2 separate regions of the Homo sapiens genome follow, and region 2 is linked to region 1. The links come from fine-mapping of genetic effects on gene expression. Tissue or cell type: sun-exposed skin. Region 1 holds a variant in brackets; the other region holds the start of a gene. All regions are shown on one strand. Distances are between the middles of the regions.

The links. PIP is the estimated chance that this variant, and not a neighbour inherited with it, causes the effect.
Region 2: it holds the start of PARVB, and the variant in region 1 is fine-mapped to the expression of PARVB in sun-exposed skin (GTEx, PIP above 0.99). The same link has a PIP of 0.9 or more in unexposed skin.

What each region holds. Positions count from the first base shown.
Region 1 is chr22:44,086,671-44,089,425 of GRCh38, reverse strand. The region is part of intron 1 of PARVB (parvin beta); the gene reads right to left. Among named protein-coding and RNA genes, the nearest start is that of TRU-TCA2-1, 63 kb to the left of the region's middle. The variant C/G (reference allele first, on the strand shown) is at 1,425.
Region 2 is chr22:44,023,218-44,025,717 of GRCh38, reverse strand. PARVB (parvin beta) reads right to left here and starts at 1,416. Exons shown (of 13, transcript NM_013327.5): 1 at 1,267-1,416. The coding sequence starts at 1,378. RefSeq lists enhancers at 1-48, 59-138 and silencers at 909-1,118, 1,169-1,218, 1,289-1,408, 1,439-1,548.

The DNA of each region.
Region 1 (2,755 bases):
ACAGGCATGCTGGCATGCATTCTCTCAGTGTCTGGAGGGTGTGGAGGGTGTGAGCTTCCAAGGGACTGGGGCTTGATTTCATGAGATGGGTGATTAAGGGAAAAAGACCGCCTTGTGCTTGTTTTCCTAAGTGTCTGCATTGTTCTAAGATGAATGTCTCTGTCCACACGAAACCCAGCAGCCAGCCACGAGGGAGTCGATGCCAACTCGTTCCCACCGCAGCAGAGTTCACCTGCAGCACCACGCTCTGTGGCCTGCACGGGGGGCCAGGTAGGAAGAGAGAGACAGGAGGGCATTTGATAGGAGGAGGGCCCCTTGGCACACTGTCTCTGGAGACGGGCACTCCTCGCTCAGCCCGGGATGGCAGAGTGGGAAGTGCAGGCTGCAGTCACCAGATCTGAGTTTTCAAGAAAAGCTGGAAATGTGGGGTTTGGTGTGGAATCTCCCCATTTATAAATACGAGCCATTAATTCAAATTTTGTGGGCCAGCCAGAGGGCACACAACCTCGGATTACAGAACATACTTGTCCAACCCATATTGCTGACTGTCCATTGGAAAGGGGGAGAGCACCACTAACGTTTCCTGAGCACCTACTATGTGCAGGGCATCTTCCATGCCAGCCATTCACCTTGTCTCCTAACAAGTCTGAGGGAGGCCGGGCACGGTGGCTCAAACCTGTAATTCCAGCACTCTGGGAGGCCAAGGTGGGCAAATCACCTGAGGTCAGGACTTCGAGACCAGCCTGACCAACATGATGAAACCCTGTCTCTACTAAAAATACAAACATTAGTCAGGCGTGGCAGTGGGCGCCTGCAATCCCAGCTACTTGGGCGGCTGAGGCATGAGAATTGCTTGAACCTGGGAGGTGGAGGTTGCAGTGAGCTAAGGTTGTGCCACTTCACTCCAGCCTGGGCAACACAGCGAGACTCCGTCTGTCTCAAAAATAATAACAATAATAATAAATAAACAAGTCTGTGAGGGAGTGGCTGGTCCTGTGCTGTTAGATGTGAAGCCCCAGAGTCAGGACTAAAGCCAGTTCTACCTGATCTTGCACCTCACTGTGCCCTACTAAATCCTACCTATCTTCAACCTCATCTTACTGGCCGCCTCCTCCAAGAAGCCCTCCTGGGTGTTCCCCTCTCCCCAGCTGAAGCCACACAGCCATGTAACTATCTCCTTCCCGAACTTGCCTTCCTGCCAGTGCCAACCCAGTTCCTGCACATAGTAGGCCTTTTAATATATTCAAGGAGCAGCACAACAGAGAGCTTAGAATCCCAGAGCCAGGCTGCTGGTTTTGGATCCCAGCTTGACCACTGACAAGGTGTGTGACCTTGGGCAAGCTGCTTGACGGCTCTGTGTGTCTCAGTTTCCATCTGTAAAGTGGGGCCTAACACACCTCAGAGAGATCACAAAGATTCAGGGA[C/G]ACACACCCTCGGCACAGTCGCCAGCATGCAGCCACCCCTCGGGAAGCGTCAGCTTTGAGTAACTATAATGGTGGAATATGTGCGGCTTCCAAAGCCTCCACCCAAAGATTGGGCAAGGTTTAAAAAAAAGAAAAAAGAAAAAAAAAAAAAAAAACACCATCGTTCCTGATTTGGAATTACAAGAACATAAAAGGAAAGAAAGAGAATCAAAAACTAAAAGCATGTCATCAGAAGCCTGCCATTTATACCTCAGGCCAAATGCGAAAGTTCCATCTTTGATTTTTTTTTTTTTAATCTTCTTCTTTGTATGGTTGTATTTATTTATTTATGCCCAGGCTCTTTCCCAAAAAAGGATTTTCAGGCAGCTTTTTTTCCCCCTTTTGATATTATTAGGAAAACAACTTTGAAAGCAAGCTGGTTTAAAGAACAAGGTTACCTTAACGGAGAGAAGAAATCTGAAAACACAAAGGCTGATCAGCTTCTTGCTCCACTAGCAGAACCAGGGCAGGACACGGGGGATGGCAAGGCGCCCCTGCAATCACGGGCCCAAGAGCCTCACTGGGGGCTTGCCTGGAGGGTCTGGCCCAGACACAAAGGCCCAATGGAGGCTGAGCCACAGGTCCTGGGGGGCCAGAGCAATGGCAACTCCATTTTCTGACACTTTTCTAAGTGTGTCATTTCAACACAGCAGAGATGCTTTGCCACCTACGGGGACTTTCTACACCATCCGTGCAATTCCTGGTTTTCATAGAGAACAAAAGATCAGGGCGAGAAATTTCAGAGGGCCCCGTCTGAACCAGGATCAAAGAGAAAACCCCAACAAAAACAGCCATTCTCCATCCCTGCACATCTAAAAGAACTGGAAAATGGCAGGAAAGCTGCCCCAGTTTTAAACACTTAACCAGCCCTTTTCAAATCCTACCCACTTCTAGTTACAACTGATCCTGCTCAAAGAAACAGAGTGGTCTTCAGAGCTTGCGGGAGGATACAGGAGGAGAAAGAAAGGTGCGGCTCTGTGCCAACTCACGCCACCAGCTCCTCTTCCCAGCTGGGGAGGGGGCATCGGGATCCTTCGCTTGGGCTTAAGCAGGAACCCAAAGACATCTCTGTTAAATGAGGTTTTCCAGGCCTCTGCCAGGAAATGACAGCTTTCTATGAATTTTCCAACTTCCATCCGTACTCAGAGGGGTGTGGTTTCTTCGTAGAAGCTGTAATTTATCAGAATAACTAACTTCATCAGGCACGAAGGTCTTCTTAACAGAGCAGTTTTTCTAAAAATAAGTCCAGTTGTACTTCAGTGAAGATCTTGCAGCTCAGTGGAGTTAAAATA
Region 2 (2,500 bases), 64 kb after region 1:
ACAGCCACTAATCATGTCATTTAGGAGACGTGACCAACACCGACCAATACAAGCTACAGTGGGTCCTCCAGTGTAAGGCTTGAGAGAAGAGTGACCTATCCGCCAGGAGACCTACTGAAGGGGACAAGACCCTGCCCTCTTGGAACAGGATCACGGGTGGGAAGACACGCATCCCTGGGGGCACAGGCATCCCTGGGAGAAAATGTCTGGGGAACCAAGCGTTCCCTGCACTGTACAAAAATCCTGGGGAGCAGGTGCATGGGGGCACACACATGCCTAGAGGCAAATCTGTCATATGTCTTCCCGGGGCACACACATCCCTAGGAATACAAGAGTCCCAGGGAAGAAATGAATGGGGGACCTGCATCCCGGGGTACACTAATCCCTGGAGGCACAGGAAGAGTTCCCAGGGGATATGTCAGGCCCAGGTGGTTTAAGGAAACCGTACTGCATACCCGCTATGGGAGGGCTCCTTCCCGGGGACCCACCTGAGGCCGGCCTTTCTCCATCTGCCTTTCCACAGCAGCTCCCCTCACCTCTCACCAATCCGAAATCTCACTATAGGGCATGGTCCCGGGGCAGAACCTCCCCACCCAAGCAGAAAATTCCAGAATGTATCTCCCAGGAGGCCCTGGGCAAGCGGTACACTTAAAGACACCAGACTATCCCTTGCAACTCTAACAATCTTTAAAACGTACGAGGTTGGTAGTGTTTCGTGAGCACACGCAGTAAAAAATTTAAAAAAAAAAATTTTTAATGGGATCTCTGCAATTCTTGCTCGCAGGCCTCCCAGGCCTCAGCCCTGCACGCCCTGAGCCCCGCACCCTGCAGGGCGCCCGCGCAACACCCAGTAGTGGGTCCCCCAGGCCGTGTCTGCCCAGAGTGCCCTGCACACGTGAGCGTCACTGCTCATGGAATGAACGGTCACCCCGCGCGGCTGGCTATGCCGCTGGCCCAGGGAAGAGCTGAACACCCGGCAGGCAGAGCAGGCGCGGGCCCCGCACGGTGGCCCGAGGTCCCCGCCGCGCAGGCGCCCGCACGCGCGTTTGGCAGACTCCGGAGGCCACCGCGGCCCCACGCGCCAGGTCCCGGCCGTTGTTTACGGGTCCTGGGTCAAAGGCCTGGCCTGTCCCGAAGGTCGCGCAGCCGCGTGGGCCGGGCGGGGTGCGTGGGGGAGGGCGGGGGCGGCCTCGTGGGGCTCTAGGGCCGAGGGCGGGCACCGCCGGGCAGGTCCCCGGGGGTCGGCGGGCGCGGGCGCGCACTCACCCTCGCGCGCCCTCCGCTTCCTGGCCAGGGTGCCGCCCAGCTTGCCCAGGAACGACTCGTCCTTCTTCATCCTGCGGGGCCGCGGGGTGGGCGAGCGCGGCGCGGAGGACATGGGCCGCGCGTGGGGCCGGCGGCGGGCGCAGCGCGTGTGGAGCCGCCCGGTCGCCCCGGGGAGAGGCCGAGGGCGCGGCCCCGCCGCCGGCCCCCGCCCCGGTCCCGCCCCCGCCCCTGGCCTGGAGCGCGGCCCCGGCGTCCCGGATGCCCGAGGCCTGCTGGTCCCGGCCAGAGCCGTCCCCGTCCCGCGCCGCCGCTCAAGCTCAGAGAAGGGGCGTGGGGCCACCCCGGGAGCGGCGCAGCCTTTTCCCTACGCGTTGGAGCCCTGGGCTCTGCTCGGCTCCGCTAGTGGTGCCGGATCCAGGCGACAGCGCGACAGACACCATTGCCACGTGGGTGCAGCCTCAGGACGTCCTGAAAGCCGGAGAGAATCAGGTCACACGAACGTGGCCGGTCTGTTGTTAAGCTTCTGCCAAGAGCCAGGCCCGGGGCAGGGGGAGCCCTTCAGAACTGGGAATTGTCCCTACCCACGGGAAGCTTAGAGGATGGAGGGCAATGCGGGGCACAGGTCATTGGCCTGACCTCCAAGGGGAGTTCCAGGAGTTGTTTCTGGAAGAGGCGACGGGGAGGCCCCAGGAAATGGCTTGCAGGCCGGTACCATGAGGTGAGCAGAAGAGCAGGCCCTGGGGACAGTGTGGGGTGCCAGGGAGGGGAGAGGAGGGGAGACAGGCCTCGCATGTGTTGGAAGCAGAGGAAACGGCTTCATCCCGAGGACTGCCAGACAGGGCTATTTTTATTTTATTTTATTTTATTTTATTTTATTTTATTTTATTTTATTTTATTTTATTTTATTTTATTTTGTTTTGTTTTATTTTATTTTATTTTTTTAGACGTAGTCTTGCTTTGTTGCCCAGGCTGGAGTGCAGTGGCACAATCTCGGCTCACTGCAACCTCCACCTCCTGAGTTAAAGCGATTCTCCTGTCTCAGCCTCCTGAGTAGCTGGGATTACAGGTGCACGCCACCACGACCGGGTAATTTTTGTATTTTTAGTAGAGATGCGGTTTTGCCATGTTGGCCAGGCTGGTCTCGAACCCCTGACCTCAGGTGATCCGCCTGCCTCGGCCTCCCAAAGTGCTGGGATTATAGGTGTGAGCCACCATGCCCAGCCTAGATACCCAG